Linked DNA regions of Homo sapiens: regions 2 and 3 are each reported to be linked to region 1. The links are microRNA targets in miRTarBase. Many come from high-throughput screens and were not tested one by one. Region 1 holds a microRNA gene; each other region holds the end of a gene's coding sequence.
Evidence for each region. Region 1 holds the annotated microRNA hsa-miR-5703 (AGGAGAAGUCGGGAAGGU, at 3,178-3,195, shown strand). A microRNA usually pairs through its seed, bases 2 to 8, with sites in the 3' UTR of a target mRNA and lowers its output. Matches are read on the target gene's strand: a 7mer-m8 pairs with bases 2 to 8, a 7mer-A1 pairs with bases 2 to 7 and ends in A, and an 8mer does both.

Region 2: the mRNA of BACH2 is a reported target of hsa-miR-5703. Seed matches in the 3' UTR shown: 8mer at 4,952-4,959.
Region 3: miRTarBase lists SLF1 as a target of hsa-miR-5703. Seed matches in the 3' UTR shown: 8mer at 5,189-5,196.

What each region holds. Positions count from the first base shown.
Region 1 is chr2:227,468,985-227,476,108 of GRCh38, forward strand. MIR5703 (microRNA 5703) reads left to right here and starts at 3,148; the gene lies at 3,148-3,203. AGFG1 (ArfGAP with FG repeats 1) reads left to right here and starts at 3,172. Exons shown (of 13, transcript NM_004504.5): 1 at 3,172-3,604. The coding sequence starts at 3,438. It overlaps LOC124907994 (a long non-coding RNA gene), which reads right to left and starts at 3,115. Exons shown (of 2, transcript XR_007088114.1): 1 at 2,176-3,115; 2 at 1,804-2,005. RefSeq lists an enhancer at 2,085-3,048 and a silencer at 3,161-3,880.
Region 2 is chr6:89,925,909-89,933,032 of GRCh38, forward strand. BACH2 (BACH transcriptional regulator 2) reads right to left here. Exons shown (of 9, transcript NM_021813.4): 9 at 620-6,982. The coding sequence ends at 6,500. Among named protein-coding and RNA genes, the nearest start is that of GJA10, 35 kb to the left of the region's middle. RefSeq lists a silencer at 1,902-2,196.
Region 3 is chr5:94,694,678-94,701,801 of GRCh38, reverse strand. It overlaps SLF1 (SMC5/6 complex localization factor 1), which reads right to left. Exons shown (of 21, transcript NM_032290.4): 21 at 4,181-6,971. The coding sequence ends at 6,490. Among named protein-coding and RNA genes, the nearest start is that of SLF1, 80 kb to the right of the region's middle.

The DNA.
Region 1 (7,124 bases):
TGTAATAGCACTTTAAAAATATTGATCGCCTAGCCTGGGCAACATAGCGACAGCTTGTCTCTACAACAAATACAAAAGTTAGCCGGGAGTGGTGGTCCTAGCTTCTTGAGGGGGTGTGCCGAGGCAGGAGGAACACTTGAGCCCAGGAGTTCGAGGCTGTAGTGAGCTATGATTGTACCATTGTACTCCAGCCTGGGTGACTGAGTGAGACCCTGTCTCCAAAATATAAATATAGATATATCTATATATCTCTGTCTATATATATTGATCACCACTGGAAGGTGAAATGAAGCCAATACATTATTTTGAAAATTTGTGAATAAAGGAAAGGAATCAAATATTTATCCTGCCTTTCTGACATGTACTATACCAAATAAAATGGTAGATGAGGGGAAATTTTTTCTTTATAGAAAATTTGAGCTGATAAATGAAGGAATGGTAGAATTAGTTTTATTTATTTATTTATTTTTATTTTTTATTTTTTTGAGACAGAGTCTCATTCTGTCACCCAGGCTGGAGTGCAGTGGTGGGATCTCAGCTCACTGCAACCTCCACCTCCTGGGTTCAAGCAATTCTCCTGCCCCAGCCTCCCGAGTAGCTGGGATTACAGGTGCCTGCCACCATGCTCAGCTAATTTTTGTATTTTTAGTAGAGACGGGGTTTCGCCATGTTGGCCAGGCTGGTCTCGAACTCCTGACCTTAGATGATCCTCCTGCCCCAGCCTCCCAAAGTTGCTGGGATTACAGGCGTGAGTCACCGCACCCAGCCAGAATGGCAGAATTAGAATATCAGTATTTTCTAATCATTAATGAATTAATGAATCTAGACATTAATCATCAATGGTTACCAACATCATGAAAAAGATATCCTCTCCTCAATTATGTCCCTCTTGATGGAAGAACACAATGAAATGAATGCCTGCCCCGCAAAAATACTGAACTGGATACTAGTGAACTAGATCTAACTACCAATTTTTAGGAAATAGAACAGAGGGACATGTTAAATGATACAGATTATGAGAAACTCTACAGAATAAAGTGCCCAATTACTAAAACAAATGAATTATAATTAAAAAAAAAGAGATGGTGGAGAGACCCAAAGAAACCTTATGAGACATATTACCCAGTTGCAAGGAGTGGGTTCAAACAAACTGTAAAAATCTCATTAAAATATTGATAATTGCCAACTTAAACACTAGTGCGATATTTGATGATCTTTAGGAGTTATTAACTTTTTTTTTTTTGAGGCGGAGTCTTGCTCTATTGCCCAGGTTGGAGTGCAGTGGCACAATCTTGGCTCACTGCCACCTCTGCCTCCCAGGTTCAAGTGATTCTCCTGCCTCAGCTTCCCAAGTAGCTGGGACTACAAGTGCATGCCACCATGCCTGGCTAATTTTCATATTTTTAGTAGAGACCCGGTTTCGCCATGTAGGCCAGGCTGGTCCTGAACTCCTGACCTCAGGTAATCCACCTGCCTTGGCCTCCCACAGTGCTGGGATTACAGGTGTGCGCCATCGTGCCCAGCCTATTGTTAACTTTTTAGATATGCTAACGGTATCATGGCTAAGTTTGAAAGAGATAAAGTTTTTATTTTTTAGGGATACAAATGGAACTATGTACCATTTAGATGAATGGTACGAAACCTAGAATTTGCTTTAAAATAATAGGAGAGGGGATGGAGGGTTGAGGTATTTATAAAGCAAGATTAGCCATGGGCTTAATCATTGCTGAAAGTGGTCCATGGGCTCATGGTAGTTTGATATTTTCCATAATAGAAAAGTTTAAAAACATTCATTGGCCAATCTATCTGTCCATTTCTTTTAATATTAAAAACATTAATTATTATTAGTAGTATTATATTAATATGAAGTCTCACTTTGTTGATTCACCCAATCCCTTTCATGAGAGATGTGGAGGTTGGTCTTGGCTGTTAGGAAACGTAGATTCTAATCCATTCAACAGCCCAGTGATTTGAGAACTTCAGCTCTCTGGGTCTCCCTGTACTCCTTTGGAAAACGAGAGACGAAGTTGATTGTTGCAGTGGGGATTTGGGTCCTGCAGTCTGGCTGTCTGGGTTGGAATTGAGCTTCGCCATAGGTACCCTTGGGTAAATTTACTTAATCCCTCAGGGTTTCATCTTCCTGTTTTGTAAAATGTAAATAACAATAACGCTCACCTCGAAGGGTTGTTGTGAAGATTACATGAACGATTTCATGTATTCATTCCGTCAACATTGAACACCTAGTCTCCAGCTCTGCGAGGGGAATGGGGTGGAGTGGCACAGAAAATACGGGGGCCAGGCTGTTTAGCGCCTAAAGGGAGAGTCCAGATCACCCATGGTAAACACGAAATAAGATGCAGTATTTCAAATAGCTAGAACTGAGACGAAAATACAACGCAGCAATTTGATGGAGAGCAACTTCGAGAAAGGTGAGCTGCAACATTAACTCGGCTGATCTGGGACAGTCTGGCGGGGGAGGTGACATCTGAGCCCCACCTGACTTAGAGGATGTCAGCTATGGATGATCCGGGTTTCCACACGCAGCAGTTCTCAAGCCAGGTGACTGCACCGCCCTAAAGTTCCCTCCACTTTTGGCAATGTCTGGGGATTTTTGGTTGCCAGCAATGGGAATTGGGGGGTTTGTTCTTGTATCTAGTGGGTATAGGCTAGGAACGCCGCCCAGTATCCTACAGTGCACAGGACACCCCAAGCCCCCCCAAATTAGCTGGCCCAAAGATAAAGAGAGAAGAGCAAGGGCAAAGGTCCTGCAGGAGTCAGAAAGGAGCTTGCTGTGTTCAGAAAACTCAAAATCCAGTGTGGCTGAGTGAGGACGACGAAGAATGAGGTAGACTGGGCTAGACTATGGAGCACTTTTTACGGCACGGTGAGGAATTTGGAATTATACTCAAAGCAGTGGAAAGCCCTTGAAGAGTTTTAAACAGAAGGGGAAGGTAACCCATGTGAAACGCTTTGCATATATAAGCGCTCAATAAATACTGTCTATTATTAATATTATTATCACCATTGTGTCTACCCTACTTGGCTCCAGACCCGGCCCATGCCTCAGCGAGGCCGCAGTGACTCCTCCTGGCCAGCAGAGGGCGCCAGCGGACACTTGGCTACCGGCCGCCCAGGGCGGGCCTCCTCTTGCCGTCCCCTTCCTCGTCTTTTCCCCTCAGGAGAAGTCGGGAAGGTGGCGGCGGCGGCGGCGGTTGTCCCGGCTGTGCCGGTTGGTGTGGCCCGTCAGCCCGCGTACCACAGCGCCCGGGCCGCGTCGAGCCCAGTACAGCCAAGCCGCTGCGGCCGGGTCCGGCGCGGGCGGCGCGCGCAGACGGAGGGCGGCGGCCGCGGCCAGGGCGGCCCGTGGGACCGCGGGCCCCCGGCGCAGCGCTGCCCGGCTCCCGGCCCTGCCGGCCTCCTCCCTTGGCGCCGCGGCCATGGCGGCCAGCGCGAAGCGGAAGCAGGAGGAGAAGCACCTGAAGATGCTGCGGGACATGACCGGCCTCCCGCACAACCGAAAGTGCTTCGACTGCGACCAGCGCGGCCCCACCTACGTTAACATGACGGTCGGCTCCTTCGTGTGTACCTCCTGCTCCGGCAGCCTGTGAGTGCGGGGCGGCCGGGCGGGTGTCGGGCCCTTCCCGGGAGGTGGGGGAGCGGGCGGCGGGACCGGGACCCTTCCGGGGCTGGGAAAGAGCCGGGTGCCGTGGGAGGCGGTCGGGGGCGGCCGTTGGGCGCCGGCTGGCGGGCGCGGCGTGGGAGGCTGCGGGCTGGATGCGCAGGGCCCGGGCAGCCGGGCTGGGGATGCGTTTTCGGTTTTGCCGGGCGAGGGTTTACGTTCTGGGCAGCCTTCGTGGGTGGGACGTGGGCGGGGTTGGGGTCAGGGAGGGGGCGACCGGGGCGAGCGTCCCTGGTCTCCGTCGAGCCTGCGGCCGCCGCCCTCGCTCTCCAGCTACCCGGGGCGCCGGGCTGTGGGGGGTGGGGGAAGACGCTAGGAGGCCGGGGGGGAGGTCCATGCGGGTCCTTTGTGTGCCCCGCCTCTCAGCGGCCCGGGAGCCGCGGTGCGGAGCGAGGCACCTGCTGGGCGCTCCTGCTGGGGGTCGGGGAGAAGCTGGGGTGGGAGGGAGGGACGCCTGCCTCGCCCGTGCCTTTTTTCTGGGTCGAGAGTACCTACGTAACTGGGAGGAAGCAGGCACTTAGGAATAGTAGCAGGATGAAAGCATCTTGATGGCAGATGTGAATCCCCTGGGAAAAGTTCGAAAGGATTAATTGCGGGAGGGGGAGGCAGAGGAGCAGATTTGAAGCTGTGGGATTTTAGTTTTATGGTCCGAAGAGAGTGTTGAGGAGTTGGGGGAAAGTTTTAATGGCAATAAGGTACCCACTAGGAGCTGTGTGATTCTAAATATGATGGAGTTATCTGTGAGATTTATCTGTATCTCGCTATCAATACCCGAGTGCCCTGGCTGTACACAGAAATGAGGAGAGCTAGCAAGTCACCATGATTTCAGAAAGACACTACCGTCCTGAGTTACTGGGATGATTTGTGTTTGTTGTTCTTTGCTTCATTAAGCTTTATTTTGATAAAGATTTTTATTGCCGTGCAATTTCATTCGGAAAATTTGCAGGTGGTTTTGGAATTGATAAAATGCTTTTATATTATTATCTTGTATTTAAAGTTACTAACAACGTGGCAGTTACTAAGTATTTTTAAAACCTTTGCTTGTAAGATTAATACAAAGCACATAATACTTTATGTGGGAAAATTGATTTCTTAAAACTTAGAAAATGCAGAACATGTCTAGTATGTACTATTTGCTTTTTAAAGTTGGGCAAAGAGGCATTATTAGTATTACATGAGTGTTATTTCTTCAGCAGACATTTTTTTTGGTGCCTATTAGGTTGTGTAAGGCCCTGGGGTGTGCCAGTAAATATAGCAAAGTCTTGTTCTCTTGGTTCTTACAGTCCAGTGGGGATGCAAAAGTAAGAAAAATGTCTTGGGCAAGTACTATGCTGAACATGAAAATTGTTTGATAGGAGAGTGCTCATGGTTACTTTTAGGCTGTGTGGCCAGGGAGACACTCTGAGAAGTTGCCAGTTAATAATATTCTCGAATTACTACAGAATCACAGAGCTAGGTGATATCAAGGAGGTAGCCTGGTTCATGCATTTCATTTACAGAAAAAGGAGTTAAGCTAGAAAGTTGTTACTTACGTTGGACAATATTGGTTCCAAAATGAAGCCAATAGAACAATTGTAATTGTATTTGATTTTTATTACATGGTTAAGATGTATGTCCTGCTTTTACTAAACACAGGTCCTTTAATCCATGTAAAGTATTTGATTTGGAAAAAATACATATATTTACACTTCCGGATTTCTGACATTTCTGTGTAGTCCCTGTAAGTACAGCAGCAAATGTGTAATATCAAGGACATATTTTCAAATTTCTTCCTAGATACCACATTTCAGAAACATTGTGCATAAAAGGATATCTCAGTATAATGACAATTATTTATCTTAATGGAACTTAATCTGTGGCAGATAGGACTTCATTTCTCTATTGAGTCATTCCACAAATATTTATTGCCTACTTGTCCTGTGTCATAAGTTACCTGGATCTTAACTGTTCTATGGAGCGTGCCTTGTAAGTATGTAAACGTAGAGTTACAATATATTGTAGTATTTCCTTTCTGTGAATGAGATAGCCAGGAAATATGTAAATGATACAGCTTCTCTGGGAGTTGATGCCTGAGCAAAGACCTTTAACGAGAAATTCTGCTTCATATGTTTGAAAGATCAAGTACTTATGAGCTAGGTACACATGGCTTTGAATCCTGACTCCAAGTATTAGTTATACGGTATTGAGAATGTCACTCAATCTATTTGAGCTTGATTTTTCTCTTATATGAAACAGTGAGGATAAGATTTCCCTTGTAAGTTTTGGATGTAGATTTGTTTTCAGTATTAAAAATAATGTATGTTAAACATCTCACGTAATGCCTGGTATATAGCAAGTGCCCTATAGATGAGAAGCATCAAGGAAGAGGACATGCCATGAGTAAGGGAACAGTACTGTATGTGAAAGATATTAAATAAGAAATATCCTAATAAAAATCTGTCACTTTGGATTTTATGGTTGTAACTCAAAACCGGAATCTAATTGGTTTAAAAATATGAAGGGTTTATTGATTGATTTTAAAGTAAAACTATACAGTGGCTTAATAATATTGCCTAGATTTTCCTCATTCGAGCATGGTTGTCCCCAGCTCCTGGGTATACTGCCTTAATTATGTCGTTGGTCCAATACTTTCAGAAGTTCTGCATTTCCCTCTGATTGGGTTAGCTTAGATCATGCCACAACTGGACACATGTTCTAACCTGACTTCATTGTCACAAGGATCCCCAAATAGAGTTCCCAAATCTGAAATCTAGAATTCTTGGGATGTAGGGAATGAAGACTAGAGTGGCAACCATCAAATGTCTACTGCAGAACGTTGGAGGGACAATAGCTTCTGAAGATTTTTTTCTTTGACAAGCAATAGTGCAGGAAAATAATTTAGGAAGAATAATATAACTCTTGGGTTTAATAATTATGTATCTGATGTTTAGATGACATGGTATAATTGAAAGAATATGAATTTTGAAGTCAGATTTTGACAATGCTACTAGCTTCGTGGCTTAGGGCAAGGTGTTATGCTAGGCCACTACATGCAGATTGGCCCAGATCCATCCTTGTAGCCTCAGTTTCTTTATTTATGTTAAGAAGATATCATATAGCTCAGGGTTGTTAAGAGGATTCAATGATACACATCGTTACTGTATTTACTTATTGAGCACATACCGTATTTGAGGATAGGGCTAAGCACTGGAGTTACAAATATTGAAATAAGGCATGCTAGCTGCCGTTCCTTGATTTACCTGGAAAATATGAATACATAGCAAATAGTATCCACTATCATGAATTCTAAATTTTAGGATAGTGACATACCTTCTATCATTTATACTAATACCTTTTTTTAAAATAAATTGAACTAGCATCTTGTTGTTAATGTTACTAGACTTGGAGCTAATCTTTCTTGTTTCTTTTTTTTCAGATGACTGTCCTATATGCTTGAATGATGTTC
Region 2 (7,124 bases), not on the chromosome of region 1:
GTACAGTTACATGCTGCACAAGTTTGCAATCTAGGAACATCTAGTCTAGGTGTGTCATAGGCTTTCTCATCTAGGTTGGTGTGGCACACCCTGATGTTCTCACAATAGGAAATTGCGTAAGGATGCATTTCTCACAACGTACCCCCTTCACTAACCAATGCATGACTGTATGGATTCCTCAACCACAATTCTAAACATCTTTCCTTGCAACTCACTGCATCTTGGTGTTGGCTTAATGTTCTTTCTCATTTACTTTCATTTAGTTTTTAAAAAATTCAGCCTATTTTGGATATAATTGCAGATTCACATGCAGTTGCAAGAAATGATACCCATCACCCAGTTTTCTCCCGTGGTAACATTCTGCATAGCGATAGCACAATATCAAAACCGAGAAATTGGGTTTAAAGCCTTTTATCTACTCTCACAGGCACTAGGGATTTTTAAAATTCAGAGTTTAGGAATCACATTAATATTATCCAATTTTAAAGATTCCTAATCAGATTAATCAGGTAGCAAGTAAGGGTCCAAACTAGAGGAAGAGAAATGGCCTCTAGGAAAAAAGATTTCCTGAGGTTTCTCACTCTGTAATTTGGAACATAGGGATCAGAGGCAGAGAAAATCAGTTTACAATGCATAATGATATGTCTTTATTTCATCAACAGAAATGGTGTCTAGACAAAATTCAGTTAACACTAGCAATTCAATTGAGTGAAAACTTTTTTTGCACAATAGTGTATTTACAATGAGTAAATGAAGTTTCAATTCATTAGTTCATAGCAATGCTTTTTTCCCCCAAAAGGTAAAAATTCTTAGTTACAGAGAATAAGCATCAACAGCCTTTCATTTTTTACAATAAAAACCACGAGAAAAACCACAATCACTTAGAAAAAAATAAGGACAAGCCTAAGAACTAGTACAATAAAATGATGCATTGAATTAAATTACATTAATCGCATAGAATCTGTGTAAAAAGTATGTAGAAAAACACCTGATGTAACCTGTTACAGTCGTTGACCAGTTATGAGAGGTACAGAGGGTTATACAGGTAGATATGTGTGAAAACTGTCCGTATTGTTCAACCTGGGGAGGAAGAGAAGAGGGGCTGCAGCCCCTTGCATACACTGAGAAGACCCTGTTTTGAATATGGCCTCTGGAGTTTGTAAGGCATATATTAGAGGTGCACTTGCATCAGACTGGTTCTGGAACAAATTGTCAAATTGTCACAGGCTCTCTTGGCCTCACTAGCAAAGGTGGTGCTTGCCTTGAATGGCTCACTGTGTCTAACAAGCACCTGAAGCTCCCAAATGCATATGGAATCTTCCTGATCACTCACTAGAGGTGCCATGTCTTTATGTCAGAGCGTGAAACGGGCATCCCAGGATTTGCACACACAAAATACATTGTTAGGACTTAAGGGGAGGTCATAGTTCTGCCTCCAAACATGTTTTGGTAGAAGACTGAGCATCCATCTGTAGGAAAACCCCTCTTTGTCCAAGTCCCTTCACTCTTTCGCAACATATGCGTCTGATTATTCCCATGGGAGCACTTGGCACTGAATGTGAGTCTACCTGAAATGAATGGTCTTGGTGCACACTTCTGCTTCTAAGAAGGGCCAGTGTTTTATCTGAGGTCAATAAACTGGAATGAGAATGAAAGTCAGAGCTGTTTATCCATTGCTTGACAGCAAAATGCATACACCGTGTCACAACATTAAATCAAAGCTATGAAAGTTGGCCTCTGCAACCAAGTGGGTATTCTTCACAAAATGGCAGCATCGTTTTCATATTACATTTAAAATGCACTGATATTCATTTGATAGAAATATCATCTCCCAGGGTGGAGTGTAGGAAAATACTATAAACTTTTCTTTGCAAGTAATGTTTTTGCACCGTCAGTTGAATAATTTATGCTCAATCTGCCACAATGAGACTTTTCTATGTACAAATGCTATTTGCACACACTATTTGTGTACAGATATGTTCTGTTCTACAGCATCGGTTTTGGACGCTGGGGTCATGAGATGGCTCAGGCAGTACTATAAACATACACTTTCAACACACAATGCCTCGTGCACACAGATTTCCTGTATGAATACCAACTCCACACAGGGCATTGTATTGTGGACTGACTCACCAGAAATTGCACTTCCAACACAGTCTTCAGTTTGGGGAAGAAACACTAACTCATGATACAACGAACAGCTTTATTCTTAGAAAACAAAAACAAAAACAAAAAACACCTTGTTCTTTAGTCTATTTACAGTCATTTGAGGACCAAACTTGATTCTTGCTCCTTCTGGATCTGAGACTCCTCCTAAACTGTAAGCAATAGTGAAGCAGTTTGAAGTCATTTCTAAGACAGCTCCTAGTTTAAATGGGGCATAATGTAGAGAAGTAGGTAGCCAAATAGGGACTTGAGAAAGCTTTGCAGGCAGCTCTTCCTCATTTTGAGAGGATTATGCTACTCCACAGGATGTCAAGCAGCTTCACGGGACAGGAGTTTTTGGTGTCTTAACAGGCTTATCATTTTCAAACCTTTGTCTGTTCCTTCTTTTTCTTCTTCTTTGATGGCAATCATAAAATATTAAAAGAGAAAATGTGGGTTTAGGCCTCTTGACAACAGCATTAAACTTCACACTGTGCACACTTCACTTTAGCCAGTCCTCTCATGAGTCTTGTCGCTGGTCCTGGCTCCTTTTGAAGGAGTAGTGGCAGTTGGCATACTAATCACTAGACTTTTGTTCCCTTCCTTGGAAAAGCAATGTAAGGATTACATCCCGAATTATAGTGCATCTTAAAAGCAGCAAACCTTTAGAAAGACAGTTAATAAATTACTCGCACAACATTCAGTTGCAGACACACAGAGTCAGGTTTTCCACTGCAGCATCATCTCTGATGCCTGAGTCATTGCTGGGAACTCAGAAGATAAATAGCAGGATGGCCTCGTAACTTTGTCGGTTTTTTTTTTTTTAAAGTTTTTCTAACTGTTTTGTTCCAGAATCAGTATGTAATAAAGTTCGATTTTAATCAAGGCACCCCCAGGTAACGCAGAGAAACAAACACATACAGCAAATCACTCACCTGTCCAAAGCCTGACCAACTTGAAAAGAGGTTGCCTGGATACACAAGCAGGACAAAGGCAGATCCAAGGGGAGGACTGGATTTAGGTGGGATGTTCATTAGTCTCAGGGTCACTCACCTCCACTGGCTCTGCCCCAACAACCATTCCTACCCCAGCCATTTGGAGACCCAAGCAGGCATCCTCCTAAACAGCCCGTGGTTGGAGGGTCTCTTATTTTTGTAAGAAAAGAGCCTTAAGAACAACCAAATGTTACTGTACTGTGCAAACACTCTTCCTTGCTGTTCACTCACTTTTCTTTTTCCTAAAAGGCGTGGGGTTGACAGAGGGATCCCAGGGAAAAGAGACAGGCTAGGTTTTAAAATTCCACTTGAGGCCGTTTGGATTCTGGTCCCCAGCAAGTCCTCCCTTTGAATCAACCCAGAAATAATTTTGACAAGCACATAGTTCTGAATAGGAAAAGACACACACACATCACATGAACAACTGCACGAAGCTAGTCACTGTTCATGGTGGATTATGAATGAAATAACTTGTGAGAAATCTCTATGAAATTGGAAGATGGTTTTTAGAGCAGTGTTTTTAACCAGTTCCCATGGCAGAAGTTAGGTTGGGGGAAGAGGAAGAAAAGCAAGGCAGGGGTGGGTGGGAGGAAGGTGAGGTCTGAGTTAGGGTGGAGAGAAATAAAGAGGCCCCGCCCCTGCTAGAAATGGCTGCCAAACAGGTCTGGGCTACTGAACCACAGAAACCTGAGGAAATGGATGGAATGTGGTCAAGACTACCAGTTGCACATGAGTTGTTACCAGGGTAAACCTCATGCCAAGAAGCTGGGTTGGACCTGGTTATGATATGAGCAGAAAGTGTTCTTTTTTTAAAAGAAGAGGAGAGGTCACTTGGAAAGGCAACAATAGAGTTAAAAAGCAAAATACTGTCAGCTGACTCCACTGTAACACACGCCTGCGAAGTATCACGTGATTCACATTGAGTTTATATTCTCACTGTCACCAGTTTTCCACAAAGGCAAACCTCATGGTGAAGCACAGAACTGTCCTAGTAGGCCAAGAAATTCCAACAACCATAACAAAAACCAGCAGCTCCAACACAGAGCTTTATCAAGATCTGTTTCAGACACACACACACACACACACACACACACACACACACACACACACACACACAAACAAGAAAAAACAAAAACCCAGAGGCAGGTTTTAAAAGTGGAACTGTTTAAAAAGAAAAGCCTTTTTTTTTTTTTTTTTTTTTTTTTTATCCTACTGCATGAACTGACAAATTTCTGGCATTCATACATATTTAAACATTTAGTGCTAATATTTGTACAGAAAAAAGTTAATAATACTAAAACATATGTTACTATGATTTCACTTTTAGCCTACATCATATACTAATTTCCCCTTTTACATGCAGCTTTAATATTGTCCAAACAATGGCACAAATAAAGAAACAAAGTCAACCATCTATTCCCCACTGCCCACCACCCCATCCCCACATCAAACCGTTCAGGACTCTCTTCCCCAGCCGGGCTGGAGTGGCCCTCGGGCTGCTCAGTGAGACCCGGACCCAAGGCCACTGGAGCGAGGGAGCTGATTCCTCCTCCTCTGGGGCACACCTTCCTGTAAACGTGGCTGGGGCCAACACGGCCCCAGAGCCAAGGGAAGCTGCTCTCTCTGGGTTGCAAGCCAACCAGTTTTGCAGCAAGAAGAGAAAATTATCATCAGGTGAGGGTAGGGTATGTGTGTGATTCGGGAAGGGGACAGGGAGGGTTCCCGGTGATAGCTTGTCCAAAGCCTCAGAATGAAGTCTGCCTTCAGACAAGACACTGGCAGAAAAACCTCAGAAGAAAACTCCAAGCCTTTGGAGAAGGAAAGGAGAAAGAATGTGTCAGCCTGTGTCAGGGATGGATCGCAGATGCCAGGATGCCCTGCTCTCTCCCAATGGGGTGAAGGCAGGACCTTCGGGGCTGTGATTCAAATCCCCTCAGGCCAGATGTCCTGGGAGGCCAAGCCTGGGCAGGAAAGCCAGTGGCTGGTTGGCCCCGTCCTTCAGGGGAGCAGGTCCTACTGCACAACACTTCCAAGAGCAAGCCGAGGCCTCAGGACGTGTTGAAATGAATGGGACTTACTCCCTGGGTGAAAACTTTCTAACTTGATTTCTAGGAGCCAATGCCTGCTGAGTTCTGGTATAAAATCACGGATTCCTGTTTTTCTGATGTACTTTTGAGTGAGATGTCCAAACTCTCTCCCCACTTAGGAATCTGAACATCCAGCATCAACTCTGAACTCTCTATCTGCGTTTAAACTTTGCTTAGGGAAAGGTGGGGAGGAGGTGAAATATAAAAATATTCAAGCAGATTATTGTCTACACATCCTAGGATGAATTCATTATTTGGCAAGATTGTTTTTCCTACATAATTATCACCTGAGTGCTTTTTAATTAGCTAAAATGTTTTACTTTTTTAACTAAAAGCAAAGAATATACAGTATACTTGAGTTATACCGAAGTTACAACTTCATTTAAGAAAATAGGTTTGACCCAAAACTCAGTGCAAGTGGCAAAGTTGACCATTACTGTACAGTATCTGCAAGGAAAACAAAAACAAAAACAAAAACAAACAAAACCCCCCAAACAAACAAAAAACAAACCTACAATGCTCAAATGACACCACTTGGAGGTGCCAAAACCAAACCAAACGAAAAAGAAATCTGAAATAAAACCTTGGGAAAAAGCTTCCAACACTGAATTTTGTCCATAAATAAGTACGAATTGAAAATTGAACTGTGAAGCAAGAAAAATGACCATGTTAACAGTTACCAAACTAGTTCTAGCATCAGAGACAAAAGAAGAGGAATGTTGGAACCTGTTTCTAAATGAGAAATAAGTTTCCAGTTTTAGGATGAGAAAGTTGAGGCATGCAGGACTTTTGCATATGGATATATATATATATATATATATATTTTATATATATATTATATATAATATGTACAGTCTAGCTATAAAACTTTGATGTGTATAGAAGCTGTCTTCAATGAAAAAAATTGAACATTCAGAAGAAATTCCTGAGATAGGGTTTGTGACATGGGCCACTGAGAAAAAAAATCCGTGGTTGGGGCCTAGAGGTGTTGTAGTCTATCCCTGTGAAGACTGAAATTGAGCCACAGACAGACAGTGTCATCACTGCTGTCTTTCCTTGCCTGGGCAAGGGGTAGCACCATTGTGAAGGTAACTATCACTCCTGCTCGAGAAGAGGAGAGGATACTTCGGAACAGTATTGCTGCTAAGACCGCTGTAGTGTGCACCAAATGTGTTCTCGGTTTCTTCGGGACAGCAGATGAACAGTGCCACAGGCTGACTGAAGAACGCCTGGATGGGAGAGGTGTGCGGACTGGGAGGCAGAGCCGAGTCACTAGGTATAATCTTTCCTGGGCTGTTCGTCAGTTGTACACTTATCAGTCATTTCCTGGCAGAAGTCCACGGTCACTGTTTGGCTCCTGGGTTCAAGAGGAGGTCCTCTCTCTGAGAAGGTTCCCGGGTCAGTGCCTTCTAGTCTCCTCCCAGAGGTACAATTCTCGGAGGTGTTGCTGGGTGCCCAGGGGGGTCCGGGGGGAGCCGCGCCTGGCTCCAAGCAGCAGGGCACGTTTTCCCCCACTGCGCATTGGGAGGCCGCAATGTTCTGCTCAGCACCCAAGGGCGCAGGGTTAATACTGGAGGCCGTGGGCAAGTCCATGGGTCTGAGGACAGGGCAATACCGATGCAGGGCCTGGATCTGCTCGGGGCTCTGGATGTCTCGGCAAACTTCCTGGGAAAGGCAGGAGAAGTTGTCCAACAGTTCCCCCATGCATGCTTTCAGTTGATTCCTCTCTGACAACAGTTTCTCTTTCTCACACACCTGGACAGTAGAGAAAAAAAGAGAAGGGTTGATCAAGCCTGAACTGGAGGACAGAAGGCCTCGTTTCAGGTTTTCCAGCCTTTGTTTTGCATCCTCCATTATAATGTAACTCAAGAATGACTAGGTCAGGCTCTAGAAACTT
Region 3 (7,124 bases), not on the chromosome of region 1:
TGAATAAATGTAGCTATCATTTAATCTTACCAGTTTCTCCCTGCTTTTCTGTGTCGTATCTGAAAAATCTCACTAGAGAACAAGTAATTCTTCAGGTCCCATAAATACTAAAATCACAAAGTAAAGATATGTTATGACTCCACATAGTATCCACATGAGCAAGTTTAATCTTTAGCAATTTAAGAGTACTACAAAAGAGTAAAGTCCCCCCAGTTCCCACTTCAGCATACTTGGGGCTCCATTTTGAAGTGTCTTAAAGAGTAGAGAACCATATCAGTAAAGTGGTCAGATTCACTTTGAAAAAAGGAGCACATGTATAGTGTATTTTTTGAGATCTGTGTTAGATAATACTAATTATACTTTTAATTATATCCAACTTTAAATAGTATATTAAAACTGTAATTTACCTTTTAAAAATCCAGTAGGTGCCAGTTTAAATAAGGCAACTTTAGAAAAATTTCAAGGACTGATTCTTACTTAAATCAGGAGCATTACTTTCAAAATAAATTGGATACTGGTATTATAAACAAATACAAATCATTACAAAGAAACCTGGAGAGGTGAAAAAGATCCAAAATTTTTTCACATAAAGACAATCACTATAAGCAATTTTTTACTTACAATCTTTTTCCTTATGTAATTTAGATGATATATTTATGTTATTATTTTTTTAAAAGAGTCTTGCTATGTTGCTCAGGTTGGCCTTGAACTCCTGGGCTCAAGTGATCATTCTGCCTCAGCCTCTCAAATAGCTGGGACTATAGGCATGTGCTACCATGTCTGGCTGAGAAGATCCTTTTTAATAACATTTAGTTTCAATTTTAAAATATTAATATTAGTAAAAAATGATATTTAGGTAAAAGGTCCAACCACTTTTAATAAGTAGCTTTCAACTCTCTGAGTCCATTTCCTCCAGTAACATGTAGGAACTTAACAGTATTTTTGGGAGTGTAAAAGAACTGAAATGACAGGAAAATAAGAAATGAGTCAAGATTTGCCTGTGAGAAAGGACTGAGTATTACTATTCGAAACAACCTTTTTCTCACAGGAAGACAAATACCACATGATCTCACTTACATGTGGAAGCTAAGAGAGGTGATCTCATAGAAGTAGACAGTAGAATGGTGGTTACCAGAGGCTGGGAAGGGAAAGGGAGGGAAGGCAAAGATGGGGAGAGGATGGTCTGAAGGGCTACAAAGTTAGTTAGATGAACTAAGAAGAGTAAGTGCTGATGTTCTATTACATAGTGGGGCGACTACAGATAATAACAATGTATTATATTTCAAGATAGCTAGAAAAGTGGGTCTTGAACGTTATCACCACAAAGAAATTGGAAAGGTTTAAGATAAATGACATGTTAACCACCATGATTTTATCATTATACAATGTACACATGTATTGAAGCATCACACTGTACCCTAATAAACATGTACAATTATTATGTGTCAATTGTTTTTTAAAAAACAGTGAAAAAAAATCTAGCCTGTTTCTGATACCATTAGAACTGGAATTTTATTATTCTTTATTTTTGATTAAATTGAATTTCGACCAAAAGAACCTTCTATAAAACAATTATCTGGACCTTTGGTTTAGTTTATCGAATATTATTCAAAAATTTCAAAGACCCAGTTTATTTCTGAGATTAGTCTACATGCTTGTCTGATTTTATACCTTCATTAAGTTCCATCAATATAATAAACAGTACCTAGAAATCTTTACCCTTTGGATTCCTTTAAGCAGAATGATTCTTAACCATTTTTCCCCTCATCCCCTTGTCCAGTTTTCACCTTTACAATTCTGCTTTTAAGTTTTCCTGGAAAATTCCTTAAAACACATATTTTAATTTTACCAGATTTTACTTATTGCTCGGTAATTTTATCTCTAATATAAAAAGGAATGAATGCAAAGTAGAAAAATGCATCTTTAGGATGAAGCCAGATAACAAAGATAAATATTCCTTTAAACAAAAACAAAAAAACTATCATAAATCAAACTATTCTGGTCATTAGAAAAATTTATTAAGAGTCATGACATAAACCACTGTTGACCTAACCTTTAGGTTGAGAAGTCACTGACAACAAACTAAGTTATTTTCATCTGTCAACACTTTAAGATTAATGATTTTTCAATATTACTATTTATTTCACTTTGAGACAGAATAGAGAAGCAGTGGTAATTTTAGTTCATCTACTATCAAGATAAACGACAGTATGATAGGTATAAATTCAAACCTGGATTCCAGATTTTCAGTTCAGCGCACCTGACTTTTTGGAAGTGCTAAACCTTTTGTTTTGTTTTTTGTTTAAATTTCTACTCTTTGGTAGAATGAAATTGTATGTCCCAAACTAGTGAGCCATTCTCTATTAATGTTTAACATCCATAATACATTAACGTTCACTTGATCCAACTCAGATACTTTGGCAAGGAAGAGGATTAGATCTACCAAATCTGGGTTCTACATCTAAAAAGATTTGGGGCCATGATACAAAAATGACTAATTTGGAAGTATATGTTTTAATTCTAATTGGAAATAACTATTTATAAATACTTGAATAAGGGCTTTTGGGGTCTATATTTGTTAAAGGCAATATGATATATTACATATATAACAATACTGCATATTTTGTTAGAAATATGGTTTAATAGTCACTTTGCTGACTTAATATTGTTGATCTTTAACTCTGCAAGTAGTTAAAAAACCCAGAACAGAGTTCATTATACTTCTGTTTTAAAAAGGGGGTGGGAGGGATCATCTCTTGAAAAACAAAAAGTATTAACATTCTAAAAAAAAAAATCACTTATATCTAGTACTAAGGATTGTATTTCAAGCTTTTTAAAAAACATAGTTCAAGTGTATTTATAATCAAAACTATATACTTACACTAAAAAAGACATAGTAATACATTCAAATATAAAAAGTATTAGGAACAGCTTGTACATATTTTAGATGTTCTGTAAGATAAGTACTTAAGAGGACAAACTTTTTAAACATCTAATAATCAATAATGTTAAAAATGTTTTATTTCCTTTGAAAAGGTCTTCTTTGAGTAGGATTTGCCTTACCTTGAAAATGTATACTCAGAGCCAAGTAAAACAACACTTCAACCTTTTCTAATTAATTTATAGCCTATAATAATTTCAAAATATATATCACAACAAATAACTACCAAAGTATATTCTCCAACTACAGTTCATTTTAACCTACAAGGTGAATTTTCTGATAACATAATTTGATTTACAAGGAATAGTTAACAATTCCATGTCTCCTGTTTTGACAACACCAGGCAGAGCTTAATTCTAATAACGCTATCACTGACCTTTCTAACTCAATCCACATTTGTCATAAAAACAATTATCATTCCTAGTTTTGCAAGCTCCACGTCAGCAGGAGGTGCAATTGGCGTGAAAGCTACGTGATAAATGCCTCAGGGAAAGAGTGCCTCATGTCACTCAAGATGACCCCTTCCTACTGATTAAGGAGCAACAGTGACAGGCTCTCATCAAGTTCACCGCTTAACTGGAAAGGTGTATAAAGGCATAAGGATTGCACATTCCATGGATATTTTTTTCATGTGAAGGTATTCATTTAATTAACTTTCTATAGCAGCATAAACAAAAATGGCAGATATTTTCTGGAGGTTATATAAAGTATCTTAGTGTAATGCATTTGTGCTTGCTTAAAAATACTAAGACTGCAAAAGCACACCCTACACCCTATCCACTCTAAAATAAAATTGCTAAAATAATACTCATCAAAGGATTAAAGTACTGGACACTTGAATATTCACATTTATAAACTAAAACAGAACACCAATTATTACTGAAATTAATTTTTTAGCAGATGTAGAAGACAATAAAATTCACAATACTTAAGCCTTATTTACCTTCCTAGACTGTGGGCCTTTCCTCTTTTTTTGTAGTTAGCCCTTGTCAAGCACACCACCTGGTTCAGAGTAGGTGTTCAAGAAATGCTGAATTCAAAGGAATTAATTTCACATTTGACTTTTATGAGGATAAATGTTTTTCTGGTCATCTTGGAATGAATAAAATGACAGAATATGTATATACTTGGATGATTTTATTCTGCAAAGTGAAATTAAAAATTAACAACCTAGAAAACTCTAACTTCAAAGAGATTTAAGAAACTGCCAGTAAACAATGCATGGGGAAAAGCTGAATCTTAACTGCTCAGAAATCTCCTCTCCAGCTTTATTTACATTGTAATAAGGTCTCTTACAGAAATTTAAAAAATATGATTCCATAGAACTATGATATCACATCTGGCAAAATACAGTGAAGAATAGCATTTCTCAACCTTGTCTTCAGATGCAACTTTGAAAAGTCTGCCATTGAAAATCTAGGACTAAGACTATGAATTATACTTTACTTATTGAGAATTTCTTCTTCCTATACCTCCAAGATAGATTTGGGCAATTATTCAAGGCAATTATTATTATGTTTTCTAAAATAAAGTATAAGAAGTAATTTTGGGAATGAAGCCTTTTCCTGAACATTTAGATTCATACTCATATACTGGTATTGTTAGCCAGGGCACAGAACACAGTAACCTATGTTTGCCACGTTGGACTTTCGAAGAAGTGTAAAACTTCTTAAAGGCAGAGACCTCAGTGACATCTGTTTCACACTTCATGTCATCACTGCTTGTAGAAGTTGGCAGACAGAGCAGTCAATTATGAAATATTAATGCTAATTGCAATTAAACAAATATACGTTATGAACATCTAATTTGGAAAACTACTTTGTACTAACAGTATAAAACCCTAACTCATGATGTTGATTCCTTAATTACCTTAGAATTACTACCAACTTAAACAATTACTATATTGCCTTTTGTCTAAATGATTCATTATAATCAAAAGAGGAGGTAAGAATTAGAAAGGAAATAATATTTATTAAGTGTCATATGATGTGATATGCTAACAATTCTATCATGACAAAGATACCTGGTGTGATTTCTATTTGACATGTAGGAAAGCCAAAGCTCAGAAAAGAATTTGCCTTGCAATTTAGTTATTAAGAAACTAGACAAGGATTTGAAAATGTGTATGATGTCAAAGCCTATGTTTACAAGTTTATATTAGTTTACCAAGCAAACACTATCCCAGACACCTTTACAAGTGAAGTAAAGAGGTACTCATTGGAATAAAAAACGTTCTTATTCATCATCTGGAGAAGCACTTTACTCTCTATAAGCATTTAAACTCTTCTTAGATAGTCTTCACTATATCATTTTTTGTCTGATACTTTGGCAGATTAATAATAAAGAGATTTGTATGATGCCAAATTTGAAGGCTAAATAGAAACTAGTATTTCCTGAGTATGTGTGGAAAAAGTACTTATTTAAAATATTTTTTCATACTGATATAGCAGTTTTCAATTTAGATTACAAACCCAGTAATATGATACTGAGCATTTGTATCTTGTTAAAATATCTATTTCCAAAATAAAACTGAAGTGTATTGCTTTAGCAGATTAACTGCTAAGGTCATCACTTGAATTACATAAAAGCTAAATGGAAGTGTTTATTTTCCACCTGTATCATAATGTAACTTACTCCCAGTAGTGAAGAAACTCCAATCTCAAAAGTGGTTATTATCCACACCCTTTCTTTTAGTTTTACTACAAACTGCTATAAGGAAAAACTGCAAATTAAAACATTACTACTCAGTAAATTCATACTATATATTAAGATCTTAAATAATCTCAAATCTATTACTTAGATGCCACTCAATATCTTAATATTAAACTCATAAACCTATGCAGCAGAATGTTTTCAGGTACAGAATACTGGGTTACATAGGGCAGCGACAGATACATTTTGTATATGAATTGCTAAAATAAAACAGATCAAGGAATTGAACTGTCAGACTCTGCATATTTGCTGCATTTAAAAACCAAAAGAATATTAATTATTACTGTAAATTTTAGAAATGTTTATTTTAGAAACACACAAAGCTAAAATGCATATTTCAGTCCAACAACCTAGAGAGAAGAAATAGGGAGCTACATGTTTTTGTTTAGTCTTGTTTTTTCCTCAAAATCCATCCCTAAGAGTCAGGAGCTACAAGTTTATAGGTACGCATTTGTATGAATATGCTTGCCATGATTCTAAGACCTAGAACATCTAGAATACAGGACATTACATTTTTATTTGAAAAAATATTTAAATTAATTTTACATGTACAATATAATATCACTTTCAGAACAAAAAAACATTAATGAAAGTAGAATATACTAAAACAAAATTATTTTTACTTTTGAGTCAAATTCTACACCCTGGAAAAAGTCAGAAGCCCATACTAGAGTTTTGTAGAAGTTTTTTTAAAAATGCTTTTAAAATTTAGCAAGGCTGCAAAGTCTGTCAATAAATAAATCAAATTACTATCTGTCAGTAAGCTATGAAGTCCACAGTAAGTACCAATGCAAACTGAACAGATTTAGAAAGTCAATCCATACTTTCTAGCATCATCATGAAAACTCCATGACTGACCGACACATCATTTCCAATGTTATCATCAAGGCCTCAGTGTGTACCCCAGGACACACTTTCAAATTCTCAGGCAGTTCCTTAAGAATGTGTGGGAGTTTCTGCAATGTCTTTATATTTCCAGCATAAAGATCCAGTAACCAGTCAGTATGAACACTGGTGGTTTCTTTATGACTTTTACAAGCCATAAGCAGTTCATTTAGATGAGTTAACCCTTTGGAAGCTAAAATGAACTCTGAAGATAAATCAAAAATTGAACAAAAATTTAGCAACATCCTACTAAGTAAAAAGGAGCCAAATTCAAGTTGCTGGTAATGAAAATGTTTCTCTGCTTGTGCATGAAAGTTCTCCACTGTATCTTCTATTTTTGTAATAGCAAACAGTTCTTCTTTGATTTGAGGTGAAACCACATAATCCAAGGGCAATTCTCCCTTAGCATTCCTCTGTTGTAAAAGCACTGGGCCTGTGAAAAGAAAATGCAAAATGTTGCAAGTAAAACATTTCTATTTTGGCAGCTTAACAGCTCTTTTCTCCTTTTTCCCAAAGCATCCAGTGCTTTCTTTGCAATCATATTTTGTATTAATTCATGTCGACACAATTAACTGACTATATATAT